Linked DNA regions of Homo sapiens. The protein of the gene in region 2 purifies or fractionates together with the protein of the main gene of each other region. This does not show direct contact. Each region holds a gene or a part of one and is shown on either strand. Other genes may lie near its edges.

What was found. Proteins that work in one complex are often made in the same cells at the same time.
Region 1: the proteins of CACNB1 (region 2) and WDR75 purify together in Homo sapiens (affinity purification with mass spectrometry; 2 studies listed by BioGRID and IntAct, with this or other methods). This does not show direct contact.

What each region holds. Positions count from the first base shown.
Region 1 is NC_000002.12:189,443,429-189,451,476, forward strand, and holds part of WDR75 (WD repeat-containing protein 75), read left to right. Parts: intron 1-4,950; coding exon 4,951-5,080; intron 5,081-5,372; exon of another isoform or gene 5,373-5,382; coding exon of another isoform or gene 5,383-5,406; intron 5,407-7,474; coding exon 7,475-7,540; intron 7,541-8,048. UniProt on the Homo sapiens protein: Ribosome biogenesis factor. Part of the small subunit (SSU) processome, first precursor of the small eukaryotic ribosomal subunit.
Region 2 is NC_000017.11:39,172,734-39,181,474, forward strand, and holds the end of CACNB1 (voltage-dependent L-type calcium channel subunit beta-1), read right to left. Parts: intron 5,347-8,741; coding exon 5,251-5,346; intron 4,803-5,250; coding exon 4,617-4,802; coding exon of another isoform or gene 4,512-4,616; exon of another isoform or gene 4,274-4,511; intron 3,227-4,273; exon of another isoform or gene 3,130-3,226; intron 2,925-3,129; coding exon 2,460-2,924; 3' UTR 720-2,459; downstream 1-719. UniProt on the Homo sapiens protein: Regulatory subunit of L-type calcium channels. Regulates the activity of L-type calcium channels that contain CACNA1A as pore-forming subunit.

The DNA of each region.
Region 1 (8,048 bases), on a different chromosome or scaffold from region 2:
CGTGCAGCCAGTTGTTGGTTGTTGTTTGGACCAAAGAGAATGGTTTTTTAATTCTTTAAGGGGACGGCGGTAATCAGTTGTAATTTGATTGTGTTTCTTCAATAATGTTAACCTGAAAACTGTAAAACTCTATGATACATGTTGGTGAGTGGAGAAATGAGAGCTGGGTAGGCTGATGTACATAAAGTACAGTGATGGCATAGAAGAGGGAGTTACATAGTCAGTTTTACCTTCAGTAGTGGTTCTTGCAGCAATGGCAAGAGTTTGCCTCACCAGTAATACTGGGGGATGGAATGCCAGGCAAACAAGCTTGAAATCTGGGGGCCTTGAAAACTGGGGGGATTGAGCCTTCTATGTAAAGTCAGTGTAATTGCAGCATAGGGTATAAGAGATGGCAGGAAAAGACTCTGGAAGAATAGAGACCAGGGGTTAGAAGACCAGTGCAGGCATCCAAGCAAGAAATCACTTTTGCCCAAACTAAGGTAATATTGAACATGGAGAAAAGAGACAGGGTTTTAGAGTGATTTCACAGTCAGTGTCAATGGGGAGATAGAGTTCAGTTCGGGGTTATTAACTCTAAGGTACCTGTAAAACAACCAGGTGGATATAGCTAGTAGTAGGTAGAAATTCAGGACTGAAGTTTGGAGAACTTGGTCAAGATTTAGAGATTTTTTTTTTGTCATCTATATATAAGCTAATAATTAAAACCATTTATCTAACAAATGACAGGATTTTAATGAACTCAGCAAAGATTTGAATATTATCTACAAGGTACCACAAGGGATTGGCTGCCTTATACAAAGAGGAATAATTTTGTATTTTACCTCAAGGTGCTTATCAAGAAAGCCAAAATCATAAAAAGACAGACTTGTGGAATTTTGGCGGCTTCCTCTTGAAACTAGAACAAAAACTCTGTTCTAGGTACTTGAGTAGGTTGTTCTGAGGGGCATGTGGGTATACATGTAAGTTCCTGGTGTTCCCATATTAGATATTACTGACTCTCAGTCCAGTTCTGTTTGCATCCCATTCTGCGGCATCCCACAGTTATATGGTGCTGTGAATTATTGCACTGGGGTTGTTAGGGTAGAGAAAACTGAAACAATGAGTCATCCTTGCCTTTCACTTTCCTAAATTGCCCACAAGCTAATGTCCCAAACTCAGTATTTTTCCCTTACAGATCATTCTGAGTATTGCTGCTGTAACAATTTTCCTAAGTTGTTACTGTTATAACATTATTACTCTAACTCTTATTTCTAGTCTTGCTCTGAACTTTTTAACAGTTTTTTGTTGCCTCCTTAACTATAGCTCCTCTATATGGCTTTCAATCCCTTCTCTGATATAGCTCAACTCTTCCTACCCAACTGTTTCCTGATACTACCCATTATAGACACTTTGCTTGTCAGATAAGTACATTATCTGTGTCTTGTATATAATCATACCATTTCCTTGCTCTTGCTTATGTTGCTATTTTTTCTTCCCACCCCTTAAATCATACATCCTTCAGAGTCTAGTTTAAATCTTGGTTCCGACTTGAAACATCCCTAATTTCTTACTTCTTCACTTTCTCAACAAAGATGAATCCTATGTGACAGGTGTTGTGGTGGGTGCATTACACACCTTCCAGTCTACAAGGTTAAGGTATTATCCCTATTGAGTGAGTGCTTGCTGTGTATGCTAAGCTTGTATTTGCATGCAATGTTTCACTTAAACTCTATGAGAACGTGTTATTTACATTTTACAGTGGCTAACTGTAAGTGGAGATGTGAAGTTTAAAGAGGTTAAGTAAATTCTCCAACATCATTCAGCTAATACATAATAAAGCTGACATTCGAATCCATTTGTGTTTGACTTATTATTGTTTCTAATAAGTGAAAACACAGTGTCTCACCTCAAAGACTCACAGTCTGGTAGAGGAGAAACATAGTACACAGACAGTCTTAATGCCTTGTGGTAAGTTCTGTGATGGAGCTAAGCCCACCGTCGTGTAGAAGCACATTAGGACGGGTGCTGATCTAGAATGAGAAGATGAGGAAGGGCTTCCGGGAGAAAATTCTGAGCTGAATCTTAAAGCAGTAGTCAAGAGTTCTGAGAAATGGGAAAGACTGAAAAACTGTCACTGATTGGAAGGTTCTGAGAAGATATGACAACTAAGGTGGTATGCTGGACTGGGGTCTAGGAACATAAAAAAGACATTAATGGAAAAAGTGAAGAGCTCCAAATAAATTATGTAGTCAATAGTCATGTACCAGTGTTAATATCTTAGTTTTGACTAACATGCTGTGCTTATGTAAAGTGCTAACATTTGTGGAAGCTAGGTGAAGCGTATGCAGGAACTCTGTAATTCTTCTGTAAATCTAAAATTATTTCAAAATTAAAAGTTAAAAAATAAGCTTACTCTTAGGAAATAAAAAAGAAGTAATTAGAAAACGTGTTCTATGTAGATAGCAGAGAGTGCAAAACCATGGAGAGAAAGTTGACTTTGAAGGGTTGCGTTTAAGTAATTGAAGCCATTGTTCTATGCTGAGAAACAAGAAGAGAGGATATTCCTTTTTTCTGAGGAAGCTTATCAGAATCAATTAGGGAAAGTTTTCTTGGCCAACAGTAGCCCCCTACCCACCACTGTCTCAAGGAAGCCATATCTAAAGGACCTCTTCATATTGATAGGGTGTGTCTGGGGGATGGGGGAAATTGTTGGAGTTATGAACTATTTTAATAGAGCACAGTGTTAAGTGAAAAAGTAGTTCAAGTTAGACTGGGATCAGACTACCAAAGCCTTAAGAATTTAGATCATTTCCTAAAGTCAGAGGGAAAACAGTGAAGGATTTTAGCTTTATCTGAGCAAGTAATATGGTCAAATTTGCAAAATTAGTCTGGTGTGACTGTGAAAGCTGCATTGAAGGACTGTACCTGGAGACTGTAGGAAGCCCTGAAGAGTGGCCCAGGCTGGAGATGTTAAGCTTCTGAACTGAAGTACTCATGGGAATGGAGAAGAGGCTCCAGCCAAAGGGCAGGTTATATATCGCAAATGCTTTGTTGCTCATACATTCTTGATCTTATACCATTTCATACAACCATGCCTCCTGGCTGACAGCACTTACAAGAGACCATTGATTATAAGATGCATTCTAATTTCAAAGAGATGAACAAGTGAAAATCAAGTGTCTTGAACTAATAAAATAGGATAGTAGTGGTCCCAGTTTGCAACAAATTTAGTGTGTTGTAATACAGTAGCTCTCCCTTGTCCACAGAGGATATGTTCCAGGACCCTCAGTGGATGCCTAGAACCACAGGTAATACCAGACACTCTATATAGTAAATGTTTTCCTATACATACATACCTATGATAAAGTTTAAGTTATAAATCAGGCACAGAGATTAACATCAATAACTAATAAAATAGAACAATTATAACAATATGTCAGCATCACTACCCTTATACTTTGGGGCCATTATTAAGTAAAATAAGGGTTACTTGAACATAAGTACTTCAGTACAGCAATAGTGGATAGGATAAACTAGACAGTTTCTACGTGACTAACGGGCAGGTGTGTCTACAGCAGAGAATGCTGGAAAAAGGAATGATTCATGTCTCAGGTGAGACAAGGGAATTCACTACTGAGAATGGCATACAATTTTAAACTTATGAATTGTTTCTGGAATTTTCCATTTAATATTTTCAGATTGATCTTGACTGTAGGTAATTAAAACCAGGGAAAGTGAAACCATAAATAAGAGAGTACTGCTATGAATATAATAGACACAGAGCAAATACTTTTTACTTGGAAGATACAAGAAGATTTATATTTCTGCGCCTTGTTCTGTGATAATATCGTGAAAGTAGTCAAACAGTGCCCCAAGTAGCTTAACCACTTTTAGTAATTTAGTAGCTGCTGCTACATGGAAGAAATCCACAAATCCAGAAAGACAAAGCAAAGCTAGCATTTCAGCAACAAGAAACAAAAATGGAATAAAGTCTTTGTATTTTTCTGTACAAAAGGCCCAGACCTCACCAACTGGAGCAGAACCTTTGACTTACCATTTGTAAGCTGGTGTTGCCAGTGAACCATGGAGATGTTGGGGACATGGAAAAACACTGCTGTTGGCAGTACTATTGAAGAGTAATAGTTGATAGTGACTAGTACAGTGTCTGCATCCATTTAATGAGCAGGCAACTTGGTTAAGCTGGCTGTTTTTGCAGGATAATTCCATTTATAGCCTCTGTCTACAAACAGTCAAGAGATATGATATTGGCATCATTAATCTTTTCTGAGTTAATAATCTCTTCTGAGTTAATGAACTGATTGGTCATAGATGTCCCCATAGACAAAAGGCACACAAATTTGAGTATACAATTCTTAAACTATACCAAAAGAAATGTCTGTTGCATTTTTATCATGGACAATAAAAAGATCCTACTACCTATTGAGTATGTGATATGGTTTGGCTGTGTCCCCACCCAAATCTCATTTTGAATTGTAGCTCCCATAATTTCCACATGTGGGAGGGACCCAATTGGAGATAACTGAATCATGGGGGCAGTTTCCCCTATACTGTTCTTGTGGTAGTGAATAAGTCTCACGAGAGCTGATGGATTTATAAAGGGGAGCTCTCCTGCACAAGTTGTTTTTGCCTGCCACCATGTAAGACATGCCTTTTGCCTTCCACCATGATTGTGAAGCCTCCCCAGCCACGTGGAACTGTGAGTCCATTAAATTTCTTTCCTTTATAAATTTGAAGAGGGAGATGGTAAGGTTTTGAATGAGATATGTAAAGCACCTAGGTGCTAGGCTCCCACCTGTAATCTCAGCATTTTGGGAGGCCCAGGCAGGCGTATCACTTGAGGCCAGGAGTTCAAGACCACTGAAACAATGATGAAAAATGTCTTTTTCAGCAGTGTGAAAACAGGCTAATACAGTATGTAAAACTTACTTTTCTTTCTTTTTTTTCCAGGTATATCTTCTGTGTCTCTGGAGACTTTGTTAAAGTTTACAGCACAGTTACAGAAGAGTGTGTACACATACTGCATGGACACAGAAATCTGGTGACTGGAATCCAGCTTAACCCCAACAACCATCTACAGGTGTCAAACAGTTTATAGCTGAATACTTTAAGACTGGCTTTGTTCTTGACAGAAAAATTTGAGTTGAATTTGACTGAGAAACTTTCCAGGTTATAAGTAAAATATTTGCTTATTTTCAGTTGTAGGGTATTTTCCACTTGCTAAATTACATTGCCTATAGCATATTCTGTGAACCATTTGTTCCACAGAATGCTAAGAGGTATTACCTGAGAAGGATATTCTTGGCTGTATGAGTTTCTGAAATTCAGGGCTAGGCACAGTTAAATGTATTTGTTGATTGTAATCTTTTTAGGTTCCCTTACATGCATTGCGAATATCCAAAAGAGGTATGTAGTTTTTGGTGTTTCTCAAACTTACTTGACTTGTGAACCATTTGGTGTCTGGAACACATTTTGAAAAATGTTGGCCAGGAGGTATTGATTTGGTAGATATGTTCCTTTAGAAGTAAGGCTCTGGCTTACTCTAGATATTGCCTAGTCTTAAGACCAGTGTCTAGATAAGAAAATTTGTTTGGTGAGTGGGTCAACTAGTTAGTTTCAAGACAAATTTGGGAATTTAATTTAGTCCAGATTTTCCCACGTCCCCCACAAAGCAGCCCTTCTTTCTTAGTATTTAAGAATAATGAAATGGTCATGTTAATTCTGTTCTTAAGTTTCGGCAAATCTACTAAAATTTTATCTCAACAATATTTTGTTCTTGCTCTTATTTTTAATCCAATTCCATTTTCCTGGATTAGTCACAGCCAACTTGGAAGTTATTGATTAAGGATGGATTTGCATTGCCATTCACTTTTATTCCAAAGGAAATAAAGTAGCACCGATCTTTTCTTTCCAAAATTAAATGAGCTACTTCTAAAAATCAAAGTTAAGTAACTTTTCTACGGGATCCAAGTACATATTTTATGCTTGCCGTCCTCTGAGGGTTTGACAAAAGTTTATCGCTGTGTGTAGTGTTTGAATGTTTTTAATAGCAAAACTATTATTTTGTTAAAATTGAAATTTGTGAAGTCCATATACTAAGTTTTATAGCCAAAAAAACGTATACACAATTCATAAAAGCTTTGTTTCGGATGACTGAAAGTGAGTAAAATTAGAGAAGGGCAGTTTTATCAGATTTGGTTGAGGTGCAGGGGCAGCAGTTCTGGACTTAGGAGTCACAGTGTTTGTGTATTAACCATTGTTTTGACAGTAATTATATGTTTGACTTGTTACATTTTACTAGTCCATATTTATGATTCTCATATGCAGTAATTGTGATATAAATTTCCTAGTTTGTATAATTTTTTGACTTGGATAGATAATATGGTTTTACTCCAACATTTTTACATTCCTCTTCTCTGAGTCCATGTCTCTATTTGCAGAAATCCTAAAATTGCCACTTTCTTTAAAAATATTAAAATTCTTTGTAAACATTATAAGCAAAGTATTTTCCTATAACAACGACAACAAAATCTAGCAGAAACTTAGTATTAATAAAACTAAGTACACTGGGACAAAAGTAAGCCTATGTGTTAGTAAGGTCTTCTGGTGCTACCAAAGTATGGTCCACAGACCAGTGTCCTAAACCATTAGTTACCATTCTGTATAAGAGTACAGAATGTGAGTGTCACAAAACACTTTGACATTGCCTCAGCATCCAAGCATATTATAATTTCTATTGTATTTTATGAAAGTATTGGTCCTTGATGGATTGGAAGAAATTTTTTTAAGCAGAATATTCTTCAGTCACTTGAGAAGCACTCCCTTAATGCTCATATAAGGTAAAAGGAGTTTGGCTAATAAAACTGAGTAAGCTGAGTTCTGGCAGGAAGAGCAACAAGCTCTTGTGTGGGTGTTTTTGTTTTGTTTTGTTTGGTTTTGGTTTTTTTTTCTGGAGAGTCTCACTCTGTCTCCCAGGCTGGAGTACAGCGATGTGATTGATCTCAGCTCACTGCAACCTCAGCCTCCCAAGTAGCTAGGATTACAGGGATGTGCCACCACGCCTGGCTAATTTTTGTAGGGGTTTCGTCATGTTGGCCAGGCTGGTCTCGAACTCCTGGCCTCAAGTGATGCACCCACCTGGGCCTCCCAAAGTGCTGAGATTACAGGTGGCAGCCACTGCACCTTGGTGCTTTTCATATCTCATTCAAAACCTTACCATCTCCCTCTTCAAGACAGAAAGTTGGCTTTTTTCCTCTCTCTTTTAGTTAAAACTTGAAATGGATGGATCTGCTTCTTGCAGAAAGCTGTGAAAAGATTGTTTTGCAGAAGCAATATAAATAAATGACTCTACCTCTTTAAGGTTAACAGTGAATTAATGAATAGAAAATGCCCCTGATCAACATTTAATTATTCATTTGATATCTTGATGAATTTCTTTTTTTTAAATCAATTTTGTATTGTTTTACCCTTTTAGCTGTATTCTTGTTCCCTTGATGGCACAATTAAACTGTGGGACTATATAGATGGCATCTTAATAAAGGTATGTGGATTGATCTTTACTTTTCGTTATGTGAATAAAAAAAGGCAATGTAATTTAATGGTAGATGTACTGTTTCTATAAGGCCAAATATTTAAATAGACTTCCTAAACAAGTTACAAAATAACATCAAAAAAATTAATTTGACTATATAAAAATTTTCCACTTATAAAAGACAAGGTAAAGCTGGAAGAAGATATTTACAAAAGATATTATTCCAAATATACAAAAATCTTCCCAAAAACCAATAAGGAAAAACTAATAGCCTGGTAGAAGAAATTGGCATAAAGTAGGAATATGTAAATTCACAGAAAAGAAATACAAATAGTCAATAAATATGAAGAGATGCTTAAACTCATTAATAAAGAAATCTAAATTAAAACAAATGACACAATATTTCCCCTCATAAATTTAGCCAAATTGTAGATTGAAAAAAAATCTAGTGATAGGTAAAGTATGGAGAAACAGGCACTTTTTTACCCAATGAGAGTTAAAACTGAAAATCAATAAA
Region 2 (8,741 bases):
GCCCTACACACACACACACACACACACACACACACACACACACACACTCACTCATGTTGGGCCTCAGCACTCAGGTAGCGGACTCAGGAATTTTAGTCCTCCACGGCGACCAGCACAAAAAACAAGAACCAGGGTGGGCACAGTGGTTCATGCCTGTAATCCCAGCACTTTGGGAGGCCAAGGTGGGTGGATCACCTGAGATCAGGAGCCTGGCCAACATGGTGAAACCCTGTCTCAACTAAAAATACAAAAATTGGCCAGGCGTGGTGGCAGGTGCCTGTAGTCCCAGCTACTCGGGAGGCTGAGGCAGGAGAATCACTTGAACCTGGGAGGCGGAGGTTGCAGTGAACCGAGATCGCGCCACTGCACTCTTCAGCCTGGGCGACAAGAGCAAAACTCCATCTCAAAAAAAAAAAAAGAAAAAGAACCAGGAGGGAGGGGAAATAGTTTGAGGGTACTGTGTGAGGCAGGACACAGGTGGTTGCAGTAACTGTCAGAAGTCCACATCCTGCCAGCTGGGGATGGGAGGAATGGGTACACTCACCTGCTGACTTTCAGTCTGGGACTGGCAGAATCCCTGATTTTCTCTGACCTGCCCCCACAAGTAGTCTGCCTCCCTGTCCCCAAAGCTGGTTAGCAGGAACGAGGGGGGCATTAGTGGAGCCAGAAGCTCAGCCCCTCCCTCTCCTGAGGTGTTGGGGCACAGTGATGCCACAAGAGCAGAAAAACAGTCATGTGTATTTAAGACATTGCACCAGTGGGTCTGGATCTCACCCACTGAGCAACATTGAGCTTCCCATTGCCTTTGGCTCTACTTGTGGAGAGACAGGTAAGTGAAGGGGCTCAGGGCCAGTGTGGAGCTGGGACTGCCCAAGCAGCTCCTGGCTTGGGCACAATACATCAGAGGGCCAAAATCAAAGGATCATCTTTTCTTTTGAGTCAATGACTCAGGGCACAACATCTTCAGGCACCCACCCTTTCAACTCCCCGTGCATATCAGCAGCTCCCAGGTGCCTACGCTGACGACTATGTGGCGAGGACAAAGAAGCAGGCTTGGGAGGCAGCCACAAAGGACAGGACAGTGGTTTTATATATGGCAAAATACTTCTCCTAGGGGAGTACAGACAAATATAGACAGACAGATGGGGGCACAGGACACCAGACAGGGAGGGGGGAAGGGAGGGCAGTGGTGTCTTCTAATCAGTAAGTGGAAGCTGCACCCCACCCCCAGGTGGAGGGTGGGACATTGGCACAGGAGGTGGCGAGACAGGCATGAGGTGCCCATCCCTGAGGCGGGCAGCCGGGCAGGCCCCAGTCCTTGTTGGCACACTCGGCTCTCTCTGGCCCAGCTGGGATGCTGGGGAGGGGCAGGGTTGCTGGGCTACAGGGATGCCAAGGCAAAGGGATGCCCCAGGGGAGAGGGGGTACCAAGGCCTCTCCTGGGGGAAGTGAACATGGGTAACAAACAGAATCACGAGAGGCAAATACAGAGCAGCAACAGCAGCAGCCAAGCCCCCCAGAGGAGATCCGAGGTCCCAAGGCAACCCCTGGGCACCATCCCACGGGTCCTCTCCCCTGGGGCCTCAGGGTGAGGGTGAAGGAGCAGTTTTTTGGTTTAAAATGAGGCGGACCAGAGTGTTCCATGGGCTCCACACCCAGGTGGCACAGGGATGGGGGGCTCAGATGCAGAGGGGCCCCCTCTACTAATGGCAGCAGGCAAGGGATGTTGGAGGCCAAGCTCATTCCTGGGGTAGGCAAAGGCTGAGGCATGGAGGTGGGGGGTGGGGAGCAGCGTCTCGGCCGCTCACTCCTCAGGGTTCTGGGCCCTGGACGTTGCCATGGCCACGGAGGGTAGAGGGTGCTGTATGCCTGCCAGCTTCCACCCAGAACCCTCCCCAAGACAAGCTCCCCATGGGGTGTCCATGCTATGGCTTTCACCGACCAGACGATGCTGCCAGGAAGCTGGGAGGAAGGGGCAGGCAGGGTGAGGGACCTTGGATCTGGGGTCTGGGGAAGAGAGCCCCCATGGGAAAGAATCTGTGGCCTCCCTTTCCAGGAAAAGCGCCCAGCCCTTCCCCAGTACTGCAGCTTGGGAGAAGGAGAGCCATCCCACTTAGGACCGTCACTTAGGGCCCCGAGTAGAAAGAGTTAAGGAAGTGCACCTTTTCTCTAGGAGGGTGAGGGAGGAGAGCCCCTTAAGATGGGAGAAAGGGGACACTTCAGAAAGGTGGGTATCCCCCATCCATCCACAACAGGCAGGTAAAAACCGACAGCTGGGGCTTAAGGGCCTCCCGGGAGCTGGGATGGTAACACCAAAGAAACCCCAAGCTTTGAGCAAAGGCATCTGAAAGGAGGGAGACAGCGCCCCCTGGAGGCGAATACATGTCAGGTGTGAGCCCCTCGCTCCCTCCCCTCCCCTGGGCTCAGAGCCCTTCCTCCCGCCGTGTGGCCCCTGCCTCTCAGCGAATGTAGACGCCTCGTCCCCAGCCCTCCAGCTCATTCTTGTTGCGCCCCAAAACTGGACCCCCACCCTCAGCGCAGTAGCGGGCCTTATTCCGGCCCCGGTTCCGGTTGTCGGTCAGCTCTTCCTCATAGTCTTCTTCCTCGTCCTCCCAGGATCCCTGTCGGGCTGGGGGCGTGCCGCCCCCTGCAGGGTCTCCAAGCCCTGGCCCCTCTGAGGGGTCAGTCTCCATGTCCACACATGAGTCTCCCAGCTCCGTGTAGGCAGAGTTTCGGCTGCCGGGGGTGTCGGCATCAAAAGTGTCTTGGCGGGACAGTGCCCGTAGCGTGCCTGCCCGGCCTGGTGGGTGGCTGCTGGGGTAAAGGCCTGGGGGCTGGCCCAGCTCCCCTGGGTACTCGTGCATGCTGGCGTGCTCCCCGGTGGCCCGTTCCAGTGGCTGGTCCCCGGAAGCAAGGTAGGGTCCCTGGTTAGCAGACGGACAGCACACACCATGCAGATCAGGCAGGGGTGAGAAAAACACAACAAAGCAAGGCAAGTTAGTGACAGCATTAAGAGGTCCGGCCTGGATGAAGAGGGTGCTGGCTCTAGAGGAGGGGCCCCGGGGACAAACGGCTCTGGAGCCCAGCCAGAGGACAGACCTCAGGGCATTTGCTCCTCTCTCGGGACAGGGGGCACCCGACCTTCAACAGATGTGAGGACATATGAACTCTCAGGGCAACTATGGCCAACAGCCGTGAGCCATGAGTCACCGCTTCCTCAGTGCAGGTCATTAATGCTATCTTGGGGCTAACTGTCATTAACAGCTCAGTATTGCCACTCATTAGCGGTTGATTCGGTTAGTCATTGCCTTTGGTTTTCCAAATATATTAACGGGATTTCAGCTCAAACCTGCTGACCCTGGCTTCTTCGACCCACACCAAACCCCAATCTCAGGCTTCCAGAACCCCATGCTTCTCCCACCATTCCCTAGTCGGATGACACCATCTCCAAGGCTGATGGGATTCCTCCCTTGCCCCCAACAAGCACTCAAAGCAGCAAGCTGGGGAAGGCTGCTGGGTCTCCCCCTCCTACTGAAGATGAAGAGGTGGCCCAGTGTCCTTATCATCAAATGTCACGTGGAGGTGGGGCACAAGAGGGGTTCCAGTCCCTCCCCTGCCATGTCAAGCTGTGTGACCCTAAGCAAACAGTTCCCCTCTCTGTGGCCTCATTTCTTGGTTGTAATGTGATGGGGGTTAGACCTGAGTAGCAGTTTCCAAACTGTTACCTAGAGATCTGGGGTGGCATTGGGTGGGAAGGGCACAGAAGTGCTTCAGGGGTCCCCATGGAGGTGGAGGGGAGGCCATTCCCCTGGCTCCCTCAGGGCAGAGCAAGGATGCATTATCTAACATCCTCAGCTTCCACGTAAGATTCATTGAACAAATGGGCTCTGTTGCTGAAAACAAATTTGAAAGCTACAGTCTAGAATGATTTCATGGGTTTCTTCTGGCTCTTAAGACCTTATACTTAATGGTGTGCCATCAAGAGGTGGGCTGTGGCTCCCATGGGAGGAGGGCAAGGCAGGATGGGTCTCCCATGGGAGGTCCTTTCCTGGACTTTAACTGGGAGAATGGTGGAAGGTTCAGCATCAAGTCATAGAAGATGCCACATTCTTGGTCCCTCTTGAGGGGCCTTGTGGAGTCAGGGCTCCAGGGAGGGAGAGTCCAGGTTTAACGTAGGTTTCCCTGGCTCTGAAGGCCCCTGCTCTGTTGGGTCTAAAAAGGGTGTGGAGTCCAGCGAATCAGTTTATCAGTCTTCCTCGCATGTCCTTCCTAGTCCCTTGTCTTAAAAGCGCTCCCATCAGGCCTCATATCCAGCGGGCAGCAGATGCGCTCCTATGGCACCAGGCCCAGGAAGACAGCACCAGAAGCCCCAGACCCATCAAAAACCACAGACACCAGAAGCTGCCGCTCATCTTATTTTTTTACAAAATAAAGCTCTTCCCTTCCTCCTCCATGTTCCCTGCACTCCAGTTCCGACCCCAGAGCAGGAGGGAAGACGGGCAGGGCGCCCACTACATGGCATGTTCCTGCTCCTGGGGCACCACACTGCCCCGCTGTGAGGACTCCAGCCCGCCCCAGAAGCCGAGGTTTCTCCTGAGCGAGGTGAGCACCTGTACCTGGAGGTTGGAGACAGGGGCAGGGCTGGCAGCCAGGGCTGCGGTAGCCATGGTGCGGTTCAGCAGCGGATTGGGTGGCGTGCTGCTGGGCGGGTGTGTGGCCTTCCAATAGGCTTCCAAGTACTCCGCCAGATGCTCGCAGGCATCCTCCAATTGGTTCTCATCCAGGATGATGTCAAACATTTCCTGTGAAGGCGGGGTTAGGGGGCAGGGCTGGGATGAGTGGGGCATGGCCAAGGGGGTTGAGGGTGTGGCCTGGGTGCAGTGGGTAGAGTCAAGGGATTGAAGGACAAGGTTAAAAAGAGGCCTCTGGATGTAGAAGGGAAGGAGAGCTCTCAGATCTACAGATTGGCAGAACTGCAAGAAGTTTTGGCACTCAGTCCAACTCCCTCATTCTAGAGATAAGGCAACCAAGGCTGGGAGACAGGGCTTGACTCTCCACGCAGAAGGGTGCTTCTGGGGCTTGAACCCAGTCTTTGACTGACGGGACCTGCGCTCTTCCCAGAAGACCAGTCTGCACCCACAGGCCTGACCCAGGTGTTCCTGGTCACCCTGTCTCTCATGTAGGCCAGAGGAAACCAGGACAACCCAAATGTTCTCCCTCCATTCCCTTCCCTGGGATCTAGGCACTCACAGGGGGGCACTGTGCCAGCTTTTCCGAGGCCGCTATTTGGACATTGAGGTGTTTGGACTGAGACTTTCCTCGGGACTTGATGAGCCTTTGAAGTACCTGGTTTGGGGAGAGAGAAAAGGAAGAGGAGCTAGAGGGACTCAGGCAATGCACCCAGTCAGAGAGGCGGGTCCTGGTTGGATCAGCATGGAGAGCCAGTGTCAAGACCCTTGAATGCTCCATAACTCTCAGCCCTGGGCACCTCTGCAGAAAGGACCTCAGCAGCCCTGTGTCTACCCTATGCAAAGCTCAGGCTCTCTCCTGGTGTTATGCCAGCCTTCCTTAGGGGCTATATGAAGGGCAGTGATTCTCCTTCTCAACTTCTCTAACATTGTTTGTAGGCCCGCCCACTCTCCTTTTTTTTTGTTTTTTTTTTTTTAAATTTTAGAGACTGGTTCTCGCTCTGTCACCCAGGCTGAAGTGCAGTGGTGTGAACATAGTTCACCTCTACCCTGGGCTCAAGCGAGCCCCCAGCCTAGCCTCCTCAGTAACTAGGGCTACAGGCACGTGCCATCATACCCCACTAATTTTTTTTAATTTTTTTGTAGAAACAGGGTCTTATTATGTTGCCCAGGCTGGTCTGAAACTCCTGGCCTCAAGTGATCCACTTGCCTCAGCCTCTCAAAGTGCTGGGATTATAGGCGTGAGTCACTGAGCCCAGCCACACCCTCTATATTAACAACGGCAACAACAACAGTCTTCCTTTATGGGGCACTTGCTACATACCAGCATTGTTCTGTGCTTTTCACATGATCAATTGAGTCCTGACAACAATCCTGTTAGATAGCTGCTATTATCATTCTCATCTCAACAACAAGAACCATAATTATAATAATGCAAAACCGGAAACTAATCATGAGGAACAATCACACAAACGCACACTGAGGGACAGACAGTCTACAGAATAGCTGTCCTGTACTCTGCCTAAATGTCAGTCTCTGGAAAATTCAAGAAAGGCTGAGGAAGCCTTCCAGATTAAAGAAAACTATACTGGCTGGGTGCGGTGGGTCACACCTGTAATCCCAGCACTTTGGGAGGCCAAGGCGGGCAGATCTTGAAGTCAGGAGATCGAGACCATCCTGGCTAACATGGTGAAACCCCATCTCTACTAAAAATACAAAACATTAGCCGGATGTGGTGGTAGGCGCCTGTAGTCTCAGCTACTCAGGAGGCTGGGGCAGAAGAATGGAGGCAGAGCTTGCAGTAAGCCGAGATGGTGCCACTGCACTCCAGCTTGGACAACAGAGCAAGACTCCGTCTCAAAAAAAAAAAAAAAAAAAAAAAGAGGGCCGGGTGCAGTGGCTCATGCCTATAATCCCAGCACTTTGGGAGGCCAAGGTGGGTGGATCACGAGGTCAGGAGATCAAGACCATCCTGGCCAACATAGTGAAACCCCGTCTCTACTAAAAAAATTAGCCGGGCATGGTGGCAGGTGCCTGTAGACCCAGCTACTTGGGAGGCTGAGGCAGGAGAACGGCGTGAACCTGGGAGGCGGAGCTTGCAGTGAGCTGAGATCGCCACTGCACTCCAACCTGAGCGACAGAGTGAGACTCTGTCTCAAAAAAAAAAAAAAGAAAGAAAGAAAGAAAGAAAACTAGGCCGGGCGCAGTGGCTCACACCTGTAATCCCAGTACTTTGGGAGGCTGAGGCGGGTGGATCACCTGAGGCCAGGAGTTCAAGACCAGCCTGGCCATCATGGTGAAACCCTGTCTTTATTAAAAAATAATAATAATACAAAAATTAGCTTGGCGTGGTAGCACATGCCTGTAGTCCCAGCTACTCACGAGGCTGAGGCATGAAAATCACTTGAACTTGGGAGGCAGAGGTTGAGGTGAGCTGACATCATGCCACTGCACTCCAGCCTGGGCGACAGAACAAGACTCTGTCTAAAAAACAACAGGCAACAAGTGATCCTGGGTTGGTTCCTGGATTGGGGGAAATGTTGCTATGAAGGGCATTCTATACCGGCACAGTGGCTCACGCCTGTAATCCCTACACTTTGGGAGGCAGGGGTGGTGGTGGATCACCTGAGGTCAGGAGTTCGAGACCAGCCAGGCCAACATGGCAAAACCCCGTCTCTACTGAAAATACAAAAATTAACTGGGTATGGTGGCAGGCGCCTGTAATCCCAGATACTCAGGAGGCTGAGGCAGAACTGCTTGAACTAGGGAGGCAGAGGCTGCAGTCAGCCAAGATCGCATCACTGCACTCCAGCCTGGGCAGCCAGAGTGAGACCCTAGCTCAAAAAAAAAAAAAACCAAATATGGACTATATTTTAGAAATAATTCTTGAATTTTACAATTGCATCATGGTTGTGTAAGATAATGATGTTGTTCTTAAGAAACACAATATAGGCCAGGCATGGTGGCTCACGCCTATAATCCCAGCACTTTGGGAGGCTGAGACAGGTGGATCTTTTGAGGTCGGGAGTTCGAGACCAGCCTGGCCAACATGGTGAAACTCTGTCTCTACTAAAAATATAAAAATTAGCCAGGTGTGGTGGTGGGCGCCTGTAATACCAGCTACTTGGGAGGCTGAGGCAGGAGAATCACTTGAACCTGGGAGGCAGAGATTGCAGTGAGCCAATATTGTACCACTGCACTCCAGCCTGGGTGACAGAGCGAGACTTCGTCCCCCCTCAAAAAAAAAAAGAGAGAAAGAAAGATAAAAGTAAATGTTTCAAAATTTGTGAATCTGAAAAAAATTAGACTGTACACTTAATTTATTTTTTATTTTTTAATAGAGACAGGGTCTTGCCATGTTGCCCAGTCTGGTCTCCAACTCCTGAGCTCAAGTGATCCACCTGCCTCAGCCTCCCAAAGTGCTGGGATTACAGGTGTGAGCCACCAAGCCTGGCTTATAGACTTTAAATGGCTGAACTTAATGGTATGGGAATTCTACCTCAATAAAATGTTAAAAAGTTAGTGAATCCTGGTGAAGAATATTCAAAAAATAAGATTTTTTTGATACTATTCTTGCCACACTTCTGTAAATCTGAAATTATTTGAAAATGAAAATCTTCTTACAAAATGGAACAGATATAGTTCTGGGATACCAAGCGTTTATTTTTATTTATTTATTTATTTATTTTTGAGACAGAGTCTTGCTCTGTCACCCAGGCTGGAGTGCAGTGATGCAATCTCGGCTCACTGCAACCTCCGCCTCCTGGGTTCAAGCAATTCTTGTGCCTCAGCCTCCTGAGTAGCTGGAATTACAGGTGCCCACCACCATGCGCAGCTAATTTTTTGAATTTTAGTAGAGGCAGGGTTTCATCATGTTGCCCAGGCTGGTCTTGAACTCTTTAGCTCAGGCAATCCGCCGGCCTCGGGCTCCCAAGGTGCTGAGATTACAGGTGTGAGCCACCGTGCCTGGCCCAATACCAAGCATTTTTCATGGTTAACCCATTTATTTAATCTTCACAAACCCAGTATGCCTATGCTGCAGATGAGGAAACC